2 separate regions of the Homo sapiens genome follow, and region 1 is linked to region 2. Evidence: fine-mapped expression QTL. A gene starts in region 2. The other region holds a variant in brackets. All regions are shown on one strand. Distances are between the middles of the regions.

Region 1 (5,363 bases), 44 kb after region 2:
GAGTTCAAGACCAGCCTGGCCAACATGGTGAAACCCTATCTCTACTAAAAAATACAAAAATTAGCTGGGTGGTGGCGGGTGCCTGTAATACTGGGTACTCGGGAGGCTGAGACAGGAGAATTGCTTGAACCCAGGAGGTAGAGGTTGCAGTGAACCGAGATCACGCCATTGCACTCCAGCCTGGGCAACAAGAGCGAAACTCCGTCTCAAAAAAAATTAGCTGGGTATGGTGGCATGTGCCTGTAATCCCAGCTGCTTTGGGGGCTGAGGCATGAGAATTGCTTGAACCGGAAGGCAGAAGTTGCAGTGAGCCAAGATCGTGCCACTGCACTCCAGCCTGGGCAACAGAGTAAGATTATCCAAAAAGAAAAAAAAAAAATTAGCGGGTGTGGCTACACCTGTAGTCCCAGCTATGTGGGAGGCTGAAGTAGGAGGATCGCTTGAGTCCAGGTGGTGGAGGCTGCAGTGAGCTATGATTGTGTGACCGCACTCCAGCCTGGGTGACAGAGCCAGACCCTGTCTCAAAAAGAAAAGGGTCATGATGCTTCCCCAACAGGATATGGTGGGGACGCTCCAAGACCATGGGAGAAGAGGATACGAGCCGGAGCTATGGAAGAAGTGAACATGTAAGACTCCAGAGGCAAACTGCCCGTCTAGACAGCTCTGGCCTGCAGAGCCCACCACTCCCAGGCCAGCGCCGTGAGGTCCTGTTGAGCCACCCACCTCACTGTGATCATCCCCAGGTAAACCCTCGGACGTGGGCCCGGTGCCCTCCTTGCTGAGGCTGAAGCCACGTGGCCATGAAAACCTGAGCATCACAAGCCGCTCTCTGCGTTTGTGGTGTGATCAGGGCCTTCTACCACAAGCCATGTGCCCAGGCTGATCCTCTCTAATGTGGAGAGGCGGCTGCGCTGGAAAGGCCTCAGTAAGAGCAGCTGGGCCCTTGCAGACAGACATCACGGTGTGACCCTCGGGACTGGCTCCCTGCGGCCACTGCAGCACAGGTGTTCACATCTCACAGTGGAGGCAGTGGACACCATGCTCGCCTGCAGGCTCTCGGCGAGGCTCTGAGTCTGGCCCCTTGCGTAGCCCCTGGTGACTCCTTGGCTTCTGGAGCGGAACTCCATCCTTCACATGGCGCTTTCCTCGAGGGCCTGTGTGCGTGTCGTCTGTGGCCAAGTTCCTACTTCATAAGGACATCAGTCATATTGGATGGGGTCCCACCCTGCTCCAATGAGACCCCATCTTTTTTTTTTTTTTTTTTTTTGAGACAGAGTCTTGCTCTGTGGCCCAGGAGGGAGTGCAGTGGCACGATCTTGGCTCACTGCAAGCTCCGCCTCCTGGGTTCACGCCATTCCCCTGCCTCAACCTCCCAAGGAGCTGGGACTACAGGCGCTCGCCACTGCACCCGGCTAATTTTTTGTATTGTTAGTGGAGACGGGGTTTCACTGTGTTAGCCAGGATGGTCTTGATCTCCTGACCTTGTGATCCACCCTCCTCGGCCTCCCAAAGTGCTGGGATTACAGGCATGAGCCACCGCGCCCGGCTGAGACCCCATCTTAATCACACCTGCAGTGACCCTGTTTTCAAGTTAAGGCCACATTCTGAGGTATTGAAAATTAGGACTCCAATATGAATTCGGGGGGACCCAATTTAACCTGTAATATGTATATCCCAAATGCAATTTTCTCCTTTTTTCTTTTAGACAGTTGCTCTGTCACCCAGGCTGGAGTGTAGCTCTTGGCTCACTGCCTCTGCTTCCCGGGCTCCCGCAATCCTCCACCTCAGCCTCCTGAGTAGCTGGGACCACAGGCGCACACCACCACACCCAGCTAATTTTTGTATTTTTGATAGAGATGAGGTTATGCCATGTTGCCCAGACTGGTCTTGAACTCCTGAGCTCAAGAGATGCACTCACCTCAACCTCCCAAAGTGCTGGGATTACAGGTATGAGCCAGCATGCCTGGCCTCCAAATGAAATTTTCAGAAAGGCCTTTTCATAATAGTAACGGGAAACAAGTGACATAGGCATAGCCTTGATAAATGTGCCAAAAGCCCATTTGGAAATAGCACATTTGTAGGAGGCCTGAGGCAAGACTTGTGGGATTGGACGGGAATGCTCTGTTCCTGGGACCAATACCTGATGATGGAGAGTGTCCATTCTTCCCTTTAAAATTTTTATTTTAATATTTTATTTTTAAAAAGGGGTCTTGCTATGTTGCCCTGGCTGGTCTGGAAGTCCTAGGATCAAGTGGTCCTCCCACCTTGGCCTCCCAAAGTGCTGGGATTACAGGTGTGAGCCACTGTGCCCAGCCCATTCTTCCCTTTTAATATATACGCTTCACATACAGGCTTTGTTTTTGCAACTCCTATCAAATCCCAACAATGTATTTGGGAGAATTTGACAAGACAGTTCTAAAGTTTATCTGAAAGAGAAGCAGCAGATCCTAAATGGCTTTCCCCAGGCCCAGCACTGGCAGATAGCACCTTTCTAACCTTCGGGTGTGAATCCAAGGGTGGTGGTGGAGCTTCAGGACACATGCACCCTCGTGTCCCTCCTCTATGTAAATGGAAGCCTTCAGTGCCAGCTCCTTTAGGTTGTAAGGACTGAACACGCTCACAGAAGTCGTGTGCACAGTGAGGTGGGGGCTGAAATGCAGCAGCTCCTCTCCCTGTGTTCTGTCCCCGCCCCACCTCTCCCCCACCTCAACTTTGACCACTAGGGGACCAATTATAACATGAGATGGCAAGAATAGCTCATGTAAAGCCACCCCACCCCAGTCACCTGGTTGCTGCATAGTGTCACATTCATAGGAGTACAATTTAGTCACTAGTAATCCTTTGCGAATAATACAAACGTCCAGTAATTCTTTGCTGCATAACAGGCCTTGTGCTCAAAAGGTTCTGCAGACCTTGCCTGGGTGCTCTGGCCAAGCTGCAGTCATCCCAGGGCTGGCTGGGGGCTGGGGGTT[T/C]GCCGGCATGCCTGCTGGTTGGTGCTGCTGCCAGTCCCAGCTACTCGGGAGGCCGAGGTACGGGGACGGCTTGGTCTCAGGAGGTTAAGGCCGCAGTGAGCCATGATCGTGCTATTGCACTCTGGCCTGGGCAACCAAGCAAGACTCTGTCTCAGAAAAAAAAAAAAAATAAGGGGGTGAGAGGGGCTATAAAGGCTCTGAGGTCCACGCTCTGGAGGCCCACAAAGTCTTTTCTGCATCATCTTGTTTGTCAGAGCAAGACCCAAGGGTGAGCCTAGATTCCTGAGCTGGGGAAACAGGCTCCACCTACTGGTGGTGAGAACTGTAGACAATCTGTGGTCGTTTTGAGTCCACTATAAGTAACCAAAATACCTTCAGTCTTGCTTGCATTTCTCAACATTAGTGAAAGGGGACCCAGTGCTTGGTTGTAGCAGGCGTCCTAAACTCTCCTTCTGACCTGCAGAGTTTTCATCTGCAGAATGTCCCCTCCTGGTGCACAGCATTCATGTCCCTTGTCCTCATCCCTGGTGGGTGCTCTCGCCGCCTCCTTTCTGATCCCATCCTCCTCCTTGTCCTACCAACCGTCTGTACTCACCCTGTGTATTTAGTTTATATAAATGTTAATGCCTGGCCAGCCGTGGTGGCTCACGCCTGTAATCCCAGCACTCTGGGAGGCTGAGGCGGGCGGATCACCTGAGGTCAGAAGTTCGAGACCAGCCTGGCCAACATGGTGAAACCCCGTTTCTACTAAAAATACAAAAAATTAGCTGGGCATGGTGGCGAGTGCCTGTAATCCCAACTACTCGGGAGACTGAGGCAGGAGAATTGCTTGAACCCTGGAGGCGGAGGTTGCGGTGAGCTGAGATCATACCATTGCACTCCAGCTTGGGCCACAAGAGTGAAACTCTGTCTCAAAAATAAAAAAATTAAAAATAAATGTTAACACCTGTAGTCCCAGTGCTTTGGGAGGTCAAGGCAGGAGGATCACTTTAGCACAGGAGGTCGAGGCTGCAGTGAGCTGGGATGGCGCTACTGCTCCCCAGCCCGGGCAACAGAGTGAGACTCGATCTCAAAAAAAAAAAAAAAAAAAAAGACCAGCGGGGGTGGTTCATGCCTGTAATCCCAGCATTTTGGGAGGCCAAGGTGAGTGGATCACTTGAGCCCAGGAGTTTGAGACCAGCCTGGTCAACATAGTGAGACTTCATTTCTACAAAAAAATAATCAGCCATGCTGTAGTCCCAGCTACTGGGGGTGCTGAGGTGGGAGGATTCCTTGAGCCCAGGATTTCAAGACCGCAGTGAGCTAGGATCAAGCCACTGAAGTTCAGCCTGGGTGACAGAGCAAGATCCTTTCTCTCTAACAAAAAATTAAAATTAAAAAATATTGGCCAGGTGTGGTGGCTCACGCCTGTAATCCCAGTAACTTTGGGAGGCTGAGGCAGGTGGATCATTCGAGGTCAGGAGTTCGAGACCAGCCTGACCAACATAATGAAACCCTATCTCTACTGAAAATACAAGGATTAGCCAGACGTGGTGGTGGGCGTCTGTAGTCCAGCTACTTGAGAGGCTGAGGCAGGAGAATCACTTGAACCACCACGCCCAACCTAATTTTTTTTTTTGTTGTTGTTGTTAGTAGAGGCAGGGTTTCACCATGTTGGCCAGGCTCATCTTGAACTCCTGACCTCAAGTGATCCACCTGCCTCAGCCTCCCAAAGTGCTGGGATTACAGGTGTGAGCCACCGCGCCCGATCTGAAGACATTTTTGATTGGTTGATTGAGTTGGGGGTCTCACTGTTGCCCAGGCTGGAGTGTGGTGGCATGATTATAGCTCACTGCAGCCTTAAACTCCCAAGCCCAAGAGATCCTCCCAGCTCAGCCTTCTGAGTAACCGGGACTACAGGTGCACACCAGCACACCCAGCTCATTTTAAATTTTTTCTTTTTTTTTGAGATGGATCTTGCTCTGTCACCCAGGCTGGAGTGCAGTGGCGCAAGCTCCGCTCACTGCAAGCTCCGCCTCCCGGGTTTATGCCATTATCCAGCCTCAGCCTCCCGAGTAGCTGGGACTATAGGCACCCGCCACCACGCCCGGCTAATTTTTTGTATTTTTAGTAGAGACGGGGTTTCACCGTGTTAGCCAGGATGGCCTCGATCAGGAGATCGTCCATCTTGGCCTTCCAAAGTGCCGGGATTGCAGGCGTGAGCCACCGCGCCCGGCCCCGTAGTTTCTTACATGTTCACAAAGAGACAAACTTAAAAGAGCAAAGCATTACGAACTTTAAGAGGCCAGTGCAGGAGGATCACTTGTAGCTAGAATTTTGAGACCATCCAGGGCAACAAAGTGAGACTCTGTCCCTACAAAAAAAATTTTTTTTTTTTTTTTTTTTGAGACA
Region 2 (5,363 bases):
ATCCCAGCACTTTGGAAGGCAGGAGGATCACTTGATCCCAGGAGTTTGAGGCTACACTCCAGCCTGGGCAACAGAGTGAGACTCCGAGTCTCCAAAAAACAAAAAAAGACAAAAGAACCCCAAAAAAACAACTTTTGGCTCATACCGCCAAACTCATGTCCAGGAATTTTGAGGTGATTTATGTGCTTCCAAAAGTATATGAGAGTGATTACCTATCAGACCTTGTGTTTGAAGGTTATCACTTGAAACTGATTTTTAATTTGTTTAGGAGAAAACCCAGCTTCTTATAGTTTTATTTTATTTATTTATTTATTTTTTTGAGACGGAGTCTCGCTGTCGCCCAGGTTGGAGTGCAGTGGCACGATCTCGGCTCACTGCAGGCTCCGCCCCCCGGGGTTCACGCCATTCTCCTGCCTCAGCCTCCCGAGTAGCTGGGACTACAAGCGCCCGCCACCTCGCCTGGCTAATTTTTTGTATTTTTAGTACAGACGGGGTGTCACCGTGTTAGCCAGGATGGTCTCGATCTCCTGACCTCGTGATCCGCCCGCCTTGGCCTCCCAAAGTGCTGGGATTACAGGCGTGAGCCACCGCGCCCGGCCTATAGTTTTAATTTATATGTCTTGGGTTAGTAGAATGGTTGACTTTTTTTTTCAGTCGTTCCTTCAAATAGTGAGTCCTCTGCTAGGCTCTATTTGTGGAATATTCTTGTTCTTCTTCAGGGATGTTTGATAGCTCTTTTTTTTCCACAGATGTTTGATATTTCCTTTTTCATCTATTGTGTTCTTACCATTTCTAGGATGTTTCTAGGCTTTCTATTCTATTTCCTGTTCTGTACCACACTGAAATGCCTGCGGTAGCTTTACAATTTGTTTTGATATCTGTTAGGGCAAGTCTACCCTCATGCCTGCTTTTGTTCCCAAGGGGGGAAAACCATAGCTGTTTTCGGCTATTTATTTTTCCAGGTGAACTTAGAATTTTGTGAAGTCTAAGAAATGTTGTTAGGATGACATTAAACCTATACATCCATTAGGAAAGAAAGGTTGCATCATCAGCTTGGCGAAGGGTTATTGAAACTGGTTTTTGATCTTGACTGGAGCTGGGGCACAACTTCCCTGTAAGGCAGACCTGGGCTCCTCTTGGACTTGGGCGACCTCGATAGTGGTGTGTTCCTTTGTTTGGTGTTCAAAGTAGAGAGCGGTCCATTAACTAGCTCCCTAGAGAAGCAGTGGCGGCTCAGGCCAGCCCAGCCCCTGGGAAGGCTATCTGCATGGCGGCCGGGAGCCCGGGTCCTGGTGGGCCGGCTCGGGCAGGCGCTTGACCCCTGGGGCCTGCGAGGGGCTGCGGCCACCGGAAGGGGCTGGCTGAGCGCAGCGTGCTGGGTCCTCCGCGCCCTCGGAGCAGGTAGGGTTCGCGGGGGTGCGCCCGCGGGGGCCCGAGGGGCGCTGGGGTCACGGGAGGGGCGCCCCTTCTCTTTTGCACCCAACCAGCCCGGGCTTCCCCAGGAGCCCAGACCCCCGAGCTTGCAGTCACTGCTGGCTGCGCCTTTGAGCCTCGGGCAACCGCAGGGAGCGTCGAGCAGGGGTCGCAAAGGGGTCGGGGAGGGGGCGCGTAGGCCGATAGAGGTCCCTAATTCGGGGCTCCTAGGGGTCAGGGTAGGGCTAAAAGGGGGTAAGTCCACCAGAGTTTGAGGGGGTGGGCGTCAGCCTGTCGGGGGGGGCCAGGGTCCCTGTCCCGGGGGCCGGTATGCGGTCCGGGTATTTCAGGGGCGAGGTCGCGGTCCTGCCCTGGCGCTTGAGGTCGGAGTCCGGTTAGATGTCCGGGGTCTGGGTCCCCGGCTCCTCCCGCGCACCCCTCCCCCACGGCGCCGGACCCCGGCAGCCCGCCCCGCCTAGTGCTGGGACCGCTGTCCGGCCCGGCCCCGCCCCCGCAGGCCCCGCCCCTGTTCACAGGCCACGCCCCCAGCTGCCCCCTGTCCCCGCCCCGCCGCTCGCCCATTCAGATGTGGGTCAGGGGTGAGCGGGCGGCGCCGACGTCACAAGCTTCCAAGATGGCGCTGGGCGGGCGGCTGTGAGCGGCGCTCGGGGCGCGCTAGGCGGGGAGCCGAGCCGGGCTGGCGGCAGGCGGACGGGGCGGGCGCGTGCGGCGCGAGCCGGGCGCTGAGGACAAGGGCCGCTGGTAGGGCCGGCCGGCCGGCGGGCGGAGCGCCGCCGCCGACGCACACGAGGTGAGGGGCGGCCTTGTGGGGCGGGGGGCGCGGGGAGCGGGCGGGGGCCGGGGCCGCGGGCTGGGCGCGTCCCCGGGGAGAGGGGCGTGGACGCGCGCGCGCCCGGGCGACGTGGGACTGCGCGCGTGGGGGACGCGCTAGCGTCTGGCGGGCCTGGGCTGGGGCGCACGCGGGACCCCTGGCAGGCCCGGGCTTTGTGGGCCAGATGCCCGGAGGGGCGCGGGCGGTGGGGCACCCGGGGCACAAAGCCCACCGGGCCGCGCCAGGCCCAGGCGGCGCGGGTCTGCGGAGCGGGGGTCGGCGGGCGAGCGGGCGCCGGCTCTTTGTGCCTTTTCATTAGCAATCTAATCCGAACAGCGTCGGGCGAGCTGCGCTGCCTGACAGGCGGGAGGGCTCCCATTATGCAAACGGCCCTGCGCCCGCGTTCGCCCCCTCGCTAGAGGATTTTGCGATTTCCAGGACTGCGGTCCTGCACCGTCTGCGGTCTCCTCTCCTCTTGCCTCCTCCCCGCGGGAAGACTGGCCACGGCAGGGGCAGGGGCGGGCCTGGAGGGGCCGCTCCCAGAGGGCCGGGCTCTGCGGCTGGTGGGCTCGCTGCCCTGCCCCCAGACCTCTCCTGTAGGCAGCCGCTTGGCAGGAAGAGAGATGGGCTTGGGGGAGGGGGTCGGCTTTCAGGGGGAAGGGACCGGCTGGCTGAGGGAGGGGGCTGAGGGGCCCCAGCTTGTCACTCTCTGTTTATCTTCCAAGATGGTTCATATTCACACAGGCCTGGGTGTGTGCGTGGTTGGGGGGGGTGGGGGGGAATGCCTCTCCCTGGGGGGCAGTGACTTGCTGAGAGGAGGGAATGAGGCCAGATAATGCTCCCAACGGCCCCACCCAGAACTGCCTGGGACTGCCTGTGTAAGGGAGCCCAGTGCTGAGCCGGATGGGTTGGAGCGGTGTTAAAGTTATTTATCCATGTCTTCTCCTGTCCCCCGCACCCCTAGTCTTTTCTAGTAGGAGTTGCCAAGCACATCTGGAAAGCTGTGTTCCCCGACCCCCCACTCCCCCAACAGCAGGAGGGGTGTAACCCAGGGAAGCCACCCCTCTGACATATGTGCTGGGGGGAGGGGCAGAGCCTTGCCCCTAGGAATCCTGTGGCGGTGGGTTGTTGACTGATGTGGGATTGCTGTGTCTCTTGTGCTGTCGGAGAGCTGGCAGGTAGTGGAGGGGCCTTGGGAGCTCCTAGGCTGAACTTGGGGCTGTCCTCCAAGGATCCAGGATGGAGGGATGGAGCTGGGTCACTCAAACCTAAGGCCTTTCTGGGTCTAGCATTTATTGCTTCCTGGCTTCTGGCTTGGCTTCTTTTCGTCCATTCTCATCTGCCAGTGTCTGGACTCCCTGGGCCTTCAGGCAGGCATTTTCAGGAGCACAGGCCATGTGGTTGGTCTGGAGCCCTGTGTCAAGGAGAGTGTGCGTGCTTGGTGGAGCAGGGTTGCTGGAGTAGTGTGAAAAAAAGCAGATGAGCTGGCCTCTGGAGACAAAGCTGTGTGGCAAGACTGCTGGTTTAGTGGGCTCTGAACACCAAGAACAGGGCCGGGAGTCTGATACTTGGGGGCTGAACTGAGTCCTGTGGCGCAGGATTGTTGCCTGGAAGTGAACGTTCCGTCTTGTGCCATTGAGACTGTGAAGATCTCTGGGTCCCACAGGACGAGCAGTAGACTTGGAAGGCTGGGAAGAGGCTCCCCAGCTGCCTGCCTTGGGAGGTCAGAGCTCTCAGGTGGGTCGGCAGGCCAGTGTCGGGCTGGGGGAGGGAGGTTGTAGTAGAGTGCCTGTGGCCCAGCTTCTCTGGTCAGTTGGCTCTGAGTGCTGCTGTGTGCCCAGCAACCTCTCCCTGCGGTGTTTTTCTGCCAGTTGTTGGAACTTGTAGATTAGTCACTGAGTTTTTACGACCGATTCCTGAAAAGAAAAATCTCCCTCTGGTTGCTGCCTCTGTGTAGAGGAAGAAGCAGCCCGAGGGAGTCAGGCCTTTAATTAAAGCAAAACCGAAATGATTGTCGAAGTTGCTGGAAGGAGAAGAGAAGGCGCAGGTGGGGCAGGGGTGATGAGTCCTGTTGTGCTGCATGATACCTGCTCTGGGGACAGGTAGGCACGATCCCATCCTCGATCCTTGGTCTTGGCCAGCAGCCCAGCCTTCTCCACAAGCTGCAGTCGCAGATTAATCCTCACGTAGTGTTTTCTTTCCGTAGATCAGATTTCTCATTTTGTTAATAAGCGCAGCCTCCCATCCACTTGAAGTCAGCTGTTGTGGACGAGGAGCAACAGGGTTTTGCATTATTGAGCTGATAGCCTGCCGCCTCCCCTCAAGTCCTTATTGTTTGCGGGGTCAGATCTGAGGGGTGGGGAAGTGCCATTTAATCAGCAGCCAGCCCCTGGAGAAGAGCTGGCGGGGCAGTTCTGGAGAGTGAGAGCCGTGAGGAAGGAATAAAGTTCAGTTTACCCAGGGGACTTGTGGTTCCAACCTTATTGCTTGGTCTGTTGGCCTGGAGCAGTCAGCCCCACCCCATACCTTGTCCTGCCCGCTGCCCCCAGTACCTGATCCCTGGGAGAGTGGGGCACTTCTTCTGGGCTGCTCTTGCTGGCCTGGGAGGCAGCTTTCACCGCGGGAAGAAAGAACACATTGGGTTCCTCCCTTCTTGTCTCCTCCGAGCCTGGCCTAGGACGGACCCCTGTGGGGCAGTGAGAGGGGAACTGGACTTGGTCGGTCGCAAAGTCTGTAGTGCATTGCTGGCTCTGCCATTTACTCCCGTCATGACCTTGAGCAGTGATTGACTCTCCTGCCGGGTTTCTACAATGGGAACAGAACTGGAGTTTACATTCATGTATCGCTGTTTTCTGGAGCTCAGCCTAGGGAAGGCAGACACTCAACAAATGATTATAAGATGGGGTGATAAGGGCTGGCATCTAGCGGAGCGCAGAGGGCATAGCGGTGGCGTGGGAGGAGCCGGCCGTGGGCTGGCTGAGAACCCTGGATGCCATGTGGGTTGGGGTTGGCCTGGAGGGGAGGGGTTTTAACCAGGAAGTGACTGCTACTGGGTTTTAAAAGGCAGTGGTAGGGTAGAGGGTGGCAGTGGAGACAGCTGGAGAGCACTGAGGACGCG

The links. PIP is the estimated chance that this variant, and not a neighbour inherited with it, causes the effect.
Region 1: its variant is fine-mapped to the expression of HIC2 in blood mononuclear cells (TOPMed, PIP 0.95).

What each region holds. Positions count from the first base shown.
Region 1 is chr22:21,459,605-21,464,967 of GRCh38, forward strand. No RefSeq gene overlaps it. Among named protein-coding and RNA genes, the nearest start is that of TMEM191C, 5.1 kb to the right of the region's middle. The variant T/C (reference allele first, on the strand shown) is at 2,973.
Region 2 is chr22:21,415,337-21,420,699 of GRCh38, forward strand. It overlaps HIC2 (HIC ZBTB transcriptional repressor 2), which reads left to right and starts at 2,035. Exons shown (of 3, transcript NM_015094.3): 1 at 2,035-2,224.